Homo sapiens: one gene and its partner. The protein of the gene in region 1 interacts with the protein of each later gene in a biochemical or structural test. Each region holds a gene or a part of one and is shown in the gene's direction. Other genes may lie near its edges. The genes, in order: MYO1C and SEPTIN9.

Region 1 (7,262 bases):
AGCAAATGGGTGAAAGGGTATAAACACGCCTAAGACTTAAGTGCTCTCTTGGGGCAGCAGATTCCATTCTGAAAAGTAGTGCGCAGCTCACCACCCCTTCTGAGCAGAGCCCGCAGCGGCCGAAGCAACGAGAGTTTCCCTCCCTGCAGCGTACCCTGGCCGTCAGGAGGCCCAGGTCCCGGTCCTGGCACTGTGTGGCCCTGGCCAAGGCCATCTACCTCTCTGAGCCTCCATGGTCCGCTCTGATCAGGGAGGCCACTGGCCCTGCCTGGCCTGCCTCAGTGACCCAGCCCTGGGGGTGCACCTGCTCTTTTTTTTTTGGAGTGTAGTGGCACCATCTCGGCTCACTGCAACCTCTGCCTCCCAGGTTCAAGCGATTCTCCTTTGTCAGCCTCCTGAGTAGCTGGGACTACAGGCGCCCACCACCACGCCTGGCTAATTTTTGTATTTTTGGTAGAGATGGGGTTTCACCATATTGACCAAGCTGGTCTCGAAGTACTGACTTTGTGATCTACCCACCTCGGCCTCCCCAACTGCTGGGATTACAGCCGTGAGCCACTGTGCCCGGCCTGGGGTGCACCTGGGCAGCTGGTTCCTGCTCCTGAGGCCCTTTCAGCAGGCAGAGGGCTTGGCTCAGGCCGGCAGCCATCTGCAGCTTCCTCCCTGTCACCCCCAGGCACAAGCTGGCTGACCAGCGGACCAGGAAATCTCTGGGCCGAGGGGAATTCCGCCTTCTGCACTATGCGGGGGAGGTGACCTACAGCGTGACCGGTGAGGATCCTGGGGCTGTGTCCCCACAGGGGCCTGCGGGGAGGCTCTGTCTCACCTCACGTCGGTTCTCCCCTCCCAGGGTTTCTGGACAAAAACAATGACCTTCTCTTCCGGAACCTTAAGGAGGTGAGGAGGACGTGGGGAGGCCGGGGTGGGGGTGGGGATAGCCCACAGCTCTGCACCTGTGTCCAGGAGCCTGTCCTGCCTGTCCCTGTGCCCCACCCTGACCCCGGCTCTGCCCACACAGACCATGTGTAGCTCAAAGAATCCCATTATGAGCCAGTGCTTTGACCGGAGCGAGCTCAGTGACAAGAAGCGGCCAGAGACGGTGAGGAGGTGGCGGGACCGGGCGCAGGGGTGCATGCGCCTGAGTGTGCATGAGGGCCTGTGTGAGCCTGGGAGCTGGCAGCGTGCGTGTGAACGCGTGTGAGCCCGTGCACATCTGCAGGTGTCTGTAGGGGGCTGCCTTAGGTGCCTCTTTGCCTACTTTTTTTTTTTTTTTTTTTTTTTGAGACAGGGTCTCGCTCTGTTGCCCAGGCTGGAGTGCAGTGGCGCAATCTGGGCTCACTGCAACCTCCACCTCCCTGGTTCAAGCGATTCTCCTGCCTCAGTCTCCTGAGTAGCTGGGATTACAGGCGCCTGCCACCATGCCCGGCTAATTTTTTGTATTTTAAGTAGAGATGGGGTTTCACCATGTTGGCCTGGCTGGTCTCAAACTCCTGACCTCGGGTGATCCACCTGCCTCGGCCTCCCAAAGTGTTAGGATTACCGGTGTGAGCCACCACGCCTGTCCCTGTTTGCCTACTTGTGTGTGTGTGCTGTGTCTATAGTGGAGTCGTGTGTCTTCAGTGTGGGCTGTGTCTGTAGGGGAATCCTTGTGTACGTCTGTCTCTGTGGGTGCCCATATGTTGACAGCTGCCTCTGTGCGGTTGCTGTCATGTGTCTACCCACTCAGCAGACATTTATAGCAGACACTGCCAGGCACTGAGGTACCACAATGAGTGGGTGTGCCTGCAGCAACATGTGCACAGGGTGCTTTGCAAACTTAGAAGAGGGAACAGCAAACGGCCTGACGGGGCGGAAGGGGTGAGGGGTTGGGGAGGCTCCCTGGAGGAGGAAGCATTGGAGATGACTTGGGAATGTCAGATGAACCTATAGTGAGGGCCCAGTCCAGACACAGAGAGTCTAAAAAGGCCATGAGGTGAGCAGGAAAGCGATGGCATCAAGGAGAAGGACCGGGGGAAAGGCAGGCATGGCCAGGGTGCCAGATGCAGGGAGGGCTCCAGCGAGCTGAAGGCGGAGGTACGGCTGTTGGGCTTGGCAAAAAGAGGGTCAGGGGAGCCCCAGAAGAGTGAGGTCAGTGAGTCCATAGGGAGGTGGAAGCCAGACTGCCTGGCAGGGAGGGCATGCAGGCGACATGCTGCCCAGGGTGTGGCTCACTGTGCCCCTGCCCGCTGCTGCCGTCCACCCCACCCTCTCCCGAAGCACCACATCCTCCCGGCCCTAGCGTCTCCCTGCTGAGGATGCCTACACACCCTCCCGCCCAGGCCTCTCCAGCAAGCCACAGACTCGTGTATCTCATCCTCTTCCCCTAGGTGGCCCCAGGGCACCCTAGATCCCACTGGTCTATAACAAACGGGCCCTTGGTCTGCCCCTCCAGGCTTTCTCCTTCTTTGACCCAGTCCCCCAGGCCAGAAACCTGGGTGTCATCCCCTTTTTTGTTTTTGTTTTTGTTTTTGAGACGGAGTCTCGCTCTGTCACCCAGGCTGGAGTGCAGTGGCGCGATCTCGGCTCACTGCAACCTCTGCCTCCTGGGCTCACGCCATTCTCCCACTTCACACTCACGAGTAGCTGGGATTACAGGTACCCGCCATCGTGCCCGGCTAATTTTTTTATTTTTGTAGAGATGGGGTTTCACCATGTTGGCCAGGCTAGTCTTAAACTCCTGACCTCAGGTGATCCGCCCGCCTCGGCCTCCCAAAGTGCTGGGATGACAGGCGTGAGCCACCGCGCCCGGCTCCGGCCCCCTCGTTCTTTTCTCTCCTTGTCTCCCTTGTCCAGCCACTGGATCTTGCCGGAGTACTTAGCAGCTCCCCCTCAGTCCTTCCCTGTAGCCACTTCACCCGCCCCTCCTCCTTATCCTTTAAAGCTCAGCAGAGCGTCATTTCCAGAAGACGTCACCTGGTGCCCCCTAACCCTCAGACTGGATGAATTGTCCCTTTGTGGGGCTCTCAGAACCCACAGGCATACACCTGCTACTCTCGGAACACCGGGATTGTGAGTCTTTGCCAAGGAGCGTGCTCCTCCGCCAGGCCTGAGATCCTTCCAGGTCCCGCAGAGCAGCATACCCAGATACTAGCTGAATGCGTAGCATGGGACATGCTGTTTAGGAACGCAGCCCTGAAGTTCTAGAAAGAAAAAGAAGGGCCACTAAAGGGAGGTGTAGCACTGAGGTTGCTGGGAGACCTGAGCAGGAGTTTTAGGCTGGAGTGAGGCTCGTAGACTGAGGTCTCTCGCCCAGCCAGAGGGGTAAGGGGTGGAGTCTGGCCCCCTCCTCTGCTGCGAGGAAGCTGTGGTGGGAGGAGTAAGGACCAGGCAGAATCAGAGGCTGCTGCGCGCGTCACCAGCCAGGGGAGTGGGGTACTCGCTGCTGGGGTCAGCAGCTTTAGCCCAGCTCCGGCCAACCTCCCATGCCTCTTGGCTCGCCAGGTCGCCACCCAGTTCAAGATGAGCCTCCTGCAGCTGGTGGAGATCCTGCAGTCTAAGGAGCCCGCCTACGTCCGCTGCATCAAACCCAATGATGCCAAACAGCCCGGTAGGCCCCTCCCACGGGGGACTTCGGGGCCGGGCCTCCCCTGCAGGAGACAGGCCGTCAGCGCCAGCCCGCTGACCACGGCGCTCCCCCTACCCCAGGCCGCTTTGACGAGGTGCTGATCCGCCACCAGGTGAAGTACCTGGGGCTGTTGGAAAACCTGCGCGTGCGCAGAGCCGGCTTTGCCTATCGCCGCAAATACGAAGCTTTCCTGCAAAGGTGGGGGCAGGTCCTGCTCGGTGCCAGGGAAGGGGAGCGGGAGGGTAGGAGCCCCTAGGTCCCATGAGGGCAGACAAGGGTTCTCGGCCCCATTTTAGAAATGCGGATGCGGAGGCCCTGGGCTGCCCTTGGTGGAGGCCCTTGGTGCTGCGGTCCTGACATCAGGCTGGGTGGAAAGAATACCCGGCTCCCCCAGGCCGTGCCCTCCAGGAGCACCCGGTCAGGGGTACAGGAGGCCTCCGTCCACGTGCCGGGCACCAGAGGCAGACAGCAAGCCTTGTAGGGCAGCTTCCAAGGGGCTCCGAAAGGGTGGAGCAGCTTTGTGGTTCTTCTGAGTCGGGGGCCTGGGGGGTCAAACTGAATTTCATCTCTGCCACTTTCTAGTTACTTGGCCTTAGGTAGATAAGAACGGTTTCTTCATCTTTAAAATGGGGGCAGTGACCGAGTGAGCCTCCTGCTAGCTGTGAACGAGTCAGTGGGAGCACCCAGCAGGTGCCCAGAGAAAGCTGATTGGGGTCCCCAGGGCAGGCTGCTGACTGGGGTGGGAGCCGCGTGCATTCCTGTCCCCAGGTACAAGTCACTGTGCCCAGAGACGTGGCCCACGTGGGCAGGACGGCCGCAGGATGGGGTGGCTGTGCTGGTCCGACACCTGGGCTACAAGCCAGAAGAGTACAAGATGGGCAGGTGGGTAGTGTCCGTGCCGGGTGCCTGCGGGGAATGGGAGTGGCAACCCCGGGCTGATCACTACTGCTCTCCCAGGACCAAGATCTTCATCCGCTTCCCCAAGACCCTGTTTGCCACAGAGGATGCCCTGGAGGTCCGGCGGCAGAGCCTGGGTGAGAGAGAGGCCTACCCTTCCTGCTGCACGGGGTCCCTTCTGGGAAGCAGGGAAGTCACTCCCTTGGGCTCCTTCTCCAGGGAGTCCACCCCTCCCTATCAGCTCCAGCCCCACGCCCAGCTCCAGGGAGTCCTTCTCCAGAGAGTCCAATGGCCGACTTGGAGCCCCTCCCCACCAGCTCCAGCCCCACGCCCACCATCCCACCCGCCGCCCCCCTTTTCCGGGCAGTCCCCACATTCATTCTTCTTCACCACTCTCCTCCTGCTCGTTGGTTCCTTCAGCCACTCTCCCATTCATGCCACTCGTGGAGCGCACACGGCACCAGGCTCCCAGCTGGCTCCCCGCGCTCTGGCCAATTGCCTTTCTTTCCCAACCGCAGCCACAAAGATCCAAGCTGCCTGGAGGGGCTTTCACTGGCGGCAGAAATTCCTCCGGGTGAAGAGATCAGGTTCGCGGGCCCATGGGTGTTCAGGAGGGGCGGGGTCTGGGGCCAGGGGGGGCCACCATGGTAAGAAGATAGAGTTCAGCCATCTGTGGTCTCCACGACAGCCATCTGCATCCAGTCGTGGTGGCGTGGAACACTGGGCCGGAGGAAGGCAGCCAAGAGGAAGTGGGCGGCACAGACCATCCGGCGGTGAGCGCCAGGGTGCCTTGTGGGGGCTGCAGAGCAGGGCGTGGGGGGTGGTTCACCGCCAGGCCCCTCACCCCCAACCCTGTCTGGCCCCCCACCCCAGGCTCATCCGAGGCTTCGTCCTGCGCCACGCCCCCCGCTGCCCCGAGAACGCCTTCTTCCTGGACCATGTGCGCACCTCTTTTTTGCTAAACCTGAGGCGGCAGCTGCCCCAGAATGTCCTGGACACCTCGTGGCCCACGCCCCCACCTGCCCTGCGTGAGGTCTGTGGGCACCCCCTGCCAAGTTAGGGACCATCATAGTACACAGCAGAAGGGTCTGATTTCTTCGGGCCAAAGGATTGGTCAGGGAGGGCTCACGGAGGGCCCGGACCAGAGCTGAGCAGTGAAAAGTAAGGTCTCTTTTTTTTTTGAGATGGAGTCTCACACTTTCGCCCAGGGAGTGGCATGATCTCGGTTCACTGCAACCTCCGCCTCCCGGGTTCAAGCGATTCTCCTGCCTCAGCCTCCTGAGTAGCTGGGACTACAGGCGCCCGCCACTACGCCCGGCTAATTTTTTTATTTTTAGTAGAGACGGGGTTTCACCCTGTTGGCCAGGCTGGTCTTGAACTCCTGAGCTCGGGTGATCCACCCACCTTGGCCTCCCAAAGTGCTGGGATTCCAGGCGTGAGCCACCGCGCCCTGCCGAGTAAGGTCTCTTGACCGGAAGCGTCTCCAGATGGAGGGGGTGTTACTTATCCAAAGGATGCAGTAGCATATGTTCGATGTCTTCAGAGGGAAGGGCCCAGGGTGTCCAGGACCTCTGACCTCACTCCTCCCCTTAGGCCTCAGAGCTTCTGCGGGAGTTGTGCATAAAGAACATGGTGTGGAAATACTGCCGGAGTATCAGCCCTGAGTGGAAGCAGCAGGTACGGAGAGCGGGGCTGGGTGAGGATGAGGAAGTGGAGTCAGGGAGTCGCAAGCATTGCTCAAAGGGTGTCCGCCTGGAGGGGCATTTACCCCGGTCTACCGTATTTACCGCGTTCTACCGTATTTACCCCGATCTACCGTATTTACCCTGGTCTACTCTATTTACCCCAGTCTACCGTATTTACCCCGCCTACCGTATTTATCTCGGTCTACTGTATTTACCCCACCTACCGTATTTACCCCAGTCTACTCTATTTACCGCAATCTACTGTATTTACCCCGTCTATAGTATTGACCCCGGTCTACCGTATTTTGCCCTGCCTACCATATTTACCCCGCCTACCGTATTTACCCCGGTCTACTCTGTTTACCCCGGTCTGCTCTATTTACCCCGGTCTGCTCTATTTACCCTAGTCTACCGTATTTACCCCGGTCTACCGGTGACCTCAGTTGGATGCCAGGCCCTGCTGGGCCTCGTGTAGGAAGTGGACACTGGAGTACAGCTGGGGTGGCCAGTAGGGTTCATATCGTGGGCCAACTGCCCTTGATTGGTAGAGACTGCTCAGAACCCTGTGTTGAAAAGTCTGCGTCTTCACTCGGGTCGATTGGTGATATCTGCCCTGATTACAGGCATTGGTTGATGTGCCGTGTTTTTGCCAACTCAGTATTGGATGATGCTAAAGGGCCCACCCAGTAACCTTGAGTATTAGTGATCTGCTGCTTACAAGACCCCAAGCTGGAGCTGAGTCTCAGGGCCACCAGGGCCTGATGGGGTGGGGAAGCATTACCAAGGCCAGTTTCAAAACCCCGCAGTGCCTTCATGACCCCGCTGGGGAGTGCTTGGTGGCGGCAGAGGGTCAGGAAGTGGAGGGTTGATGGGCGTGTGGGGGGCAGGGCTCAGCCTCCTGGTGCTGAGCCAGAGAGGGACCAGCAAGCGGGTGAGGGAGGCTGTCTCAGGTCCTAAGGCTGGCTCTGCCCCCCCAAGATGGTGCTCCCCACCATGACACTCTCCTCACCCCCCTTGTCTCCTCAGCTGCAGCAGAAGGCCGTGGCTAGTGAGATCTTCAAGGGCAAGAAGGATAA
Region 2 (7,262 bases), about 76 Mb from region 1:
GGGAGGTAGCCCAGGCACTGCTGAATCTCAGACTGGAGAGCCTCGTGCCTGGGTGGGAGGGGCCCCATGTGCAGACCCTGCTGGTCTCTCCGGAGAGACCCCTGACCGGCCTCCCATCCTCTCCCCAGGGCAGAGCGGCTTGGGTAAATCCACCTTAATCAACACCCTCTTCAAATCCAAAATCAGCCGGAAGTCGGTGCAGCCCACCTCAGAGGAGCGCATCCCCAAGACCATCGAGATCAAGTCCATCACGCACGGTCAGTGGCCGGGAGTGGGCTGGGGGTGCAGGACGCCCCTGCCTTCCTGGAGCACAGGGGTTGGGGGTCAAGACCATCACACACAGTCAGTGGCCAGGGGCGGGCTGGGGGTGCAGGACTCCTCTGCCTTCCTGGAGCACAGAGTGGGGGGTCAAGACCATCACACACAGTCAGTGGCCGGGAGTGGGCTGGGGATGCAGGACGCCCCTGCCTTCCTGGAGCACAGGGGTTGGGGGTCAAGACCATCACACACGGTCAGTGGCTGGGGATGGGCTGGGGATGTGGGATACCCATGCCTTCCTGGAGCACTGGTGCGGTGTGAGGGTGCCCGAGTCAGGCAATCCCAGGTCCCCAAGACGGGGACTCGCTGTGCCCACCATCCCCAGCATGTTGAGCATGTTGGGGCTCTGGCTGTGATGGGTCAGTGTCCCGGACCCCTGTGGGCCCCGTCACACTGAGCTCCCCACAGACAACTGAGTTTTCCACCAAAAGTCTGACAGGCAAGGGGCTCCCAGGGGAACCGTCACCGGCCTGTGCCGGAGTTGGCTGAGGAAGGCCATTAATTTCCCGGTGTCTCCTTGGTTGTCATCGCTGCCTACCTGGGGTTGCCCCGGGGTCAGTCAGGTGTGGGGTGTCTGTGAGGGTCTTCCGTCTCCCCTCTGACTCTGCGTCCGTGGCTCTGTGCAGATATTGAGGAGAAAGGCGTCCGGATGAAGCTGACAGTGATTGACACACCAGGGTTCGGGGACCACATCAACAACGAGAACTGGTGAGGCCCCTCCAGGGGGAGGAGCACTAGCGGGGGCTTCAGGGCTCCCTGGACCCCACCCAGAGTCAGCCCTAGAGGTTTCCCGGCCCGCGGGGGTGCAGGGCCCACCTCCTGGGACCTGACATGCTGCCAAAGCCGCACGTCTCAGGGGCCTGAAAATTCTGGACCAAAGCAGAATTACCTGGGGAATCTTGCTGTCCCCAACTCATCACCTGAGGCCAGCCCGGGGAGGCTGGTTTGGGAGGCCGAGGGTAAGGCTGTGGCATCTCCGCTCAGCAAGCCAGACCTCCCAGGGCATGCATTTCATTGGAAGGTGGGGTGTTGGGCTCTGAGTCCTGGGAATGCACGACCTGCTTGGGGAGGGCATCTCATGTGCCTGCTGACTCGTCCCCATCCCCCACGCAGCTGGCAGCCCATCATGAAGTTCATCAATGACCAGTACGAGAAATACCTGCAGGAGGAGGTCAACATCAACCGCAAGAAGCGCATCCCGGACACCCGCGTCCACTGCTGCCTCTACTTCATCCCCGCCACCGGCCACTCGTACGTCCCTGCAGTGTCGGCGTCCTCATGCCGGGTGCCCTGGGTTCCCTCTGTCCCCTGGGACTGCAAGACGGTGCTGTCTGCCCTGCTGCTGGGTGCAGAGGGGCTGAGTCAGGGGCCATGGCCGCCAGCTATGAAGTTGGGGGTGTGCCATGTCTGCACCTCCAAAGCCTCACACTGACCCCTATGCAAGTGTCCTGCCCAGCCCCCATCCTTCAGCTGCGTCTTGGGGAGCTGAGGGTCAGGCAGGCCCTGGGCTGTTCTGGAGCCTGGTGGTCTGTGTCCTGCCTTCTCAGGCCAGGCTCTGGCAGGTGGAGTGGGAGCCCCCAGCCAAGCACCCGTAGCGGTGACTGACCTTCTCATCCGGGCCCTGCCTCATGGGACCCCTTAGAGGGTTTGGTGCGTTCTTAGACGGGAAGCACAGAGATCAGTGCTGGCCCCTTCCAGGGCTGGACGGGGCTGCTGTTGGTGTTGGTGAGAGCCCTTTCCTCCCGCCGGCTCTGTCCGCACCTGACGTCGCCCCTAGAGATCAGCAAGGGCGGGAGGCTGCATGTACCCTGGCAGGTGGACTCTTCATGGCCTCACGGACCCTCTGTCCTCAGCTCCCTGTGCACCCCCTGCCAGACACCTGTGGCTCACCCTGAGCCAGGGCTGGGAGGAGGAGGACCAGAGGCCAGCAGGAGTGGCTGGTGGAGGCAGCCGTGGGTGGCTTGTCTGCATGGGTGGGTGGAGAAGGTCCTTCGCACCTGCTGTCCCAGATGTACTTCCCTGGGCGGAGGAAGCCCAGGGGTTTGGGGAAACCATACTCTGTGGGCACCAGGTGCAGGAAGGAGCCTGGCTGGTGGGCAGCGGGCCTCACCCAGAGTCTGTGGGAAAACCCAAGCCGGAGTTTTCGAGCCCACCCTCTGGCATCATCCTCTGTGGGCCAGCAGGAGTCAGGGGCAGGGGGCCAGCCCGCTGTCCATGGGCCTCTCCTGAACTGAACATCTGCCCTCCCAGGCAGAACGGCTCACCTGCGGTCCTGTGGCAGCTGTTCCAGCTGCTCCAAGCTTTGCCTCAGCTGAGGCTGATGGCAGGAGGCAGAAGCCTCTCCTGATGCCAGCTGGGCAAGCCGAGGGCGGGCGGGCGGTCTGTGGCACTTCTGCCACTCCCCAGCACTGACCCTTTGGCTGGGACTCCAGCTAGGCATGTTGCCTGGTCCCGCCCAAGGCGTCCAGTCCCATGGGGCAGGGGCGGGCCTTGGCCATCTCTGCTTAAACTTCTGCCCGGAGCGGGCTTCTCCCCAGCCATGTGTGTGACCGATTTATTCTCACTGTGGGAAAAGCTCGGCTCCAGAACTGGGGAAGATGGTGCCCCAGTTCCAGGGCCCTGCCAGCCCCTGCCACCCACAGCTTTCCCCACATCAGACCCCAGGCTCACTGGGGCCAAGCAGGCAAGGGGAGCAGCCCGCCTGGTGCAGGGGAGCAGCCCGCCTGGTGCAGGGGCACCGCACACTGGTGCTAGCTTCTATTTCTCTTGCCTCTCCCCTCCCAGCCAAAGCCCCACAGCAAGACGGCTGCTGAGCCAACGACAGCCCTTCTGTGTGGACATGTAGGGGTGTGGTTGGGACCCCAGAACTCATGGACGAGGGTGCTTGGAGCTGGCCCTGGCCCGCCTGGCCTGTGCAGTGGTGTCACCTGTGTCTGGGACACACCCGTGTCCTTCCTCTGCCCCACACTCACAGCGTGGCCGACTCGGCCCGGGGCCCTGTCCTTGCCAGCAGGGACCCCCGTGAGCCCCGAGCCAGCACCTGAGAGTGTCGACACCTGCTTGGGGGTGGGTGCCCCCCCACTGCCCCGCTCCCCCAGATGAGCCTCACGCACATCCCTCTGCTTCAGCCTCAGGCCCCTGGACATCGAGTTTATGAAACGCCTGAGCAAGGTGGTCAACATCGTCCCTGTCATCGCCAAGGCGGACACACTCACCCTGGAGGAGAGGGTCCACTTCAAACAGCGGGTAGGGTTCCATCTCTACTTGCCCCAGCCCTTCTGTGCAACCTGGAGACGCTGCAGGCCTGGCAGGGGCCACCCCGTCTAAAGGAGTCACACTGTCAGGGAGACCGAACCGCTGGTCACTCTCCCCAGCGGGTGGCTGGCCTGGTGGTCCCTGGCCCAGGTGGCTGCTGGGGGCCGTCCCTGAGATGGCCTCTCCAGCTCCCCCATATCTCAAAAGCAGCTTTGTGGGAGTGCCAATTCTCCAGCAGAGTCTCTGAGGGGGGTTTTGGAGAAGACCTGGACCAGGCAGATGGTGAATCTCTCTTCCAGGGAGTGAGGCCGAGCAGGGGCCGTGCGACATGGCCCACCTTGTTTTATGCCCCCCCTTTTTTTTTTTGAGAAAGGGTCTGGCTCAGTTGCCAAGGTTGCAATGTAGTGGCACAATCATGGCTCACTGCAGCCTCCACCTCCCAGGCTCAGTCCCCGAGTAGCTGGAATTACAGACGCACACCACCATGTCTGGCTAATTTTTGTATTTTTAGTAGAGACGAGGTTTTGCCATGTTGCCCAGGCTGGTCTCTAACCCTTGGGCTCAAGGGATCCTCCTGCCTCAGCCTCCCAAAGTGCTGGGGTTACAGGCATGAGCCACCTCACCTCGCCCTGCCTGGTTTTTATTAGATGGAAGAGAAGCTGGGCCAGGTGTGGTGGCTCACGCCTGTAATCCCAGCACTTTGGGAGGCCGAGGCGGGCAGATCACTTGAGGTCAGGAGTTTGAGGCCAACATGATGAAACCCCATCTCTACTAAAAATACAAAAATATTAGTCGGGCATGGTGGCGGGCGCCTGTAGTCCCAGCTACTTGGGAGGCTGAGGCAGGAGAATCTCTTGAACCCGGGAGGCGGAGGCTTCAGTGAGCCGAGATTGAGCCACTGCACTCCAGCCTGGGTGACAGAGCGAGACTCCATCTCAAAAAAAAAAAAAAAAAAAAAAGTTTCAGGAGGGATGGTCTCTGCCACCTTCTTCTCCGCCACCGTCTGAGGCCCCTGCTGTGGGATAGGGAGGGGCATCCAAGCAAGAGGGCAGCCCTGGGCTCTTCCTCCTGACAGGGCAGCACATCAGAGCCACATGGGGTGCCTTTCAAAATGAAACCGAGGTGCCTGGGCTGCGGCACCACATCTGCCTCGGTGGGTGTGGGTGGGGCCTGTAACCTACTCCGTCCTGGGGCCAGGTGTCAGGGACCTTCCCAGCATGTGCAGGGGAAGACAGTCCACACAAAGTGGGTGTGTCTGCCGGAGGCTACACACGGGCTGTGGTCTGTGCCTGGGCAGGCGAGCAGCCGCTCACTGGGATGTTTCTGTTGCACGTACCCATGTCGGGCTGCTGGCAGGGAGCTGAGAGGTTACTGCAGGCGGGGCCCCTGCTGGAACTGGGGACTGTGACGAGGGTTTTTTAGGAAGGGTTTCAGGAGGGGAGGTCTCGGTAACCCTGAGTACTTTCTTGGGGCTGTGATGAGCAGGAGAAGAGAGGTGGGAGGTGCTCAGGACGATGACCTTAAGCCCCTGGGGAGTTGCAGCGTCGCTCAGGACAGCAGGTGCACCTGCAGCTGCCCCTCTTCCCTCCAGGAGGCACAGGAGTTGGAGGTGATTGGTGTCACAGCCCCCCAGAGCCTGCCCTTGAACCCGAGCCTGGGGCAGCACACAGTGTGGAGGTCATGTGGCAAACACCAGTGGGTGGGTAGAGCTTGCCACAGGGATGGGCCCATCTCTCTCCCTCCTTATCCCAGATCACCGCAGACCTGCTGTCCAACGGCATCGACGTGTACCCCCAGAAGGAATTTGATGAGGACTCGGAGGACCGGCTGGTGAACGAGAAGTTCCGGGTGAGTGGATCCACTAGGATGTTGTTCCCAGGGGACCCCCAGTTCCTGCTGAAGGGTGGGTTGGGGGTTTGGAGGACCTTAAGCCATGAAATTATATTCTTGGGGCCAGAGGGCACTGAGCCCAGGTGTCTGTACCCAGTGCTGTCAGGCTGAGGCTCTCGTTTTTGGGGGACCCCAGGCTCAGGGCAGCTCCTCCCGGGGGCCCAGGGGAGGGAATTGCCTTCCCGCACATGTGTAACCAATACCGTCTGCCCGTTCCCCAGGAGATGATCCCATTTGCTGTGGTGGGCAGTGACCACGAGTACCAGGTCAACGGCAAGAGGATCCTTGGGAGGAAGACCAAGTGGGGTACCATCGAAGGTACTCGCCGCAGGCGCCGGGGCTCCAGACAGATGGGAAGACAGTCTCTTCTGCTGACCCAGAGCCTGTGGGCCACGCCTGAGCCAGGGACTCGTGGAACCTCATCCACTGCCTTGCCCCACCCAGAGGGAGGGGTCTCCTTGTCCCCATTCAACCCTTGGGAAAGTGAGAGGGCAAGTGGCCTGTGCAGATGCCTCCACCCCAGACCTCCCCCCGGGCAGGGAAAGATTCAGGGAGACAGGAGCTGGGATGGGGGCCGCCAAGTTCTGGATCCTGGTGCAGGCTCTTTCATAGGCACCTGTGTGGCCCTGGACAAATCGCCCAACCTCTCTGGGCCTAGAAAAGGGGTGGGCTGTAGCTCTGTGAGCCAGATGGACCCTCGGCCCCTTACCCTGCTGAAGTTCCTGGGACCCTCACACCTTAGTCTCTTGAGTGGCTGTTGTAACCAATTAGCACAAACGAGGGGACTTAAAACAACACAAACGTATTTTCACAGTTCCAGAGGCCAGAGGTCCGAAATCAGGGGCTGTTTCCTTCTGAGGCCCTGAGGACCAGCCTCATCCATGCCTTCCTCCTTCTGGTGGCGCCTGGCATTCCTAGTTGTATTGTAAAGGCATCACATGCTCTAATCTCTGCCCCATTGTCACAGGGCCTTCTTCCCTGTGTCTCTGTCCCGTCCCTCCTCTTCCTTTTTTTTTTTTTTTTTTTTTGTTTGAGACGGAGTCTCGTTCTGTCACCCAGGCTGGAGTGCAGTGTTGCAATCTCAGCTCACTGCAACCTCTGCCTCCTGGGTTCAAGTAATTCTCCTGCCTCAGCCTCCCGAGTATCTGGGATTACAGTCACGTACCACCCACCTGACTTAATTTTTGTATTTTTAGTAGAGACAGGATTTCGCCATGTTGGCCAGGCTGGTCTTAAACTCCTGACCTCAGGTGATCTGCCCACCTTGCTTGGCCTCCCAAAGTGCTGGGATTACAGGAATGAGCCACCGAGCCTGCCCTCTTTCCTTCTTGTCTTTGGACAAGGATGCCTGTCTTTGGACTTAGGGCCTACCCTAAGTGGATGATCCCATTTGGAGATCCTTAATGAATCTATAAAGAAAGACGTTTTCCAAGTAAGGTCACAATCATGGGTTCCAAGGCCTGGACCTTGACCATGTCTTTGAATGGATGGGAGCCCCTGGGGGGCCACAGTTCAACCCACTCCTGGCGGTGACACCCCGGGAGGGATGGGCCCGAACGTTTCCTTCCCCTTCCTCTCTCTGTCCCTTCATTTCTCATTAGAATGGAAGAGGGGAAGGTGCAGAGGGAAATGCAGCAGGAAAAGCCACTTTGTTCTGGGAGAGCACTTGGCTGAAAGGCCCAGTAGAGCAGGAAGCACAAGTCTCTTAATCTTCCAGGGCCTCAGTTTTCATCATCCACAAAGTGGGTGCAGTGTGCCAAGATTTTAGTGAGTTGAGAGACTGTCCCAAAGACCACAGA

What was found.
Region 2: the proteins of MYO1C (region 1) and SEPTIN9 form a complex in vitro, tested with the Homo sapiens proteins (one study listed by BioGRID).

The regions. Positions count from the first base shown.
Region 1 is NC_000017.11:1,468,447-1,475,708, reverse strand, and holds part of MYO1C (unconventional myosin-Ic), read left to right. Parts: intron 1-676; coding exon 677-771; intron 772-850; coding exon 851-897; intron 898-1,018; coding exon 1,019-1,099; intron 1,100-3,480; coding exon 3,481-3,586; intron 3,587-3,684; coding exon 3,685-3,802; intron 3,803-4,372; coding exon 4,373-4,486; intron 4,487-4,561; coding exon 4,562-4,638; intron 4,639-5,019; coding exon 5,020-5,088; intron 5,089-5,189; coding exon 5,190-5,274; intron 5,275-5,374; coding exon 5,375-5,534; intron 5,535-6,094; coding exon 6,095-6,178; intron 6,179-7,212; coding exon 7,213-7,262.
Region 2 is NC_000017.11:77,487,296-77,494,557, forward strand, and holds part of SEPTIN9 (septin-9), read left to right. Parts: intron 1-128; coding exon 129-257; intron 258-944; coding exon 945-1,026; intron 1,027-1,431; coding exon 1,432-1,569; intron 1,570-3,446; coding exon 3,447-3,564; intron 3,565-5,325; coding exon 5,326-5,421; intron 5,422-5,684; coding exon 5,685-5,781; intron 5,782-7,262.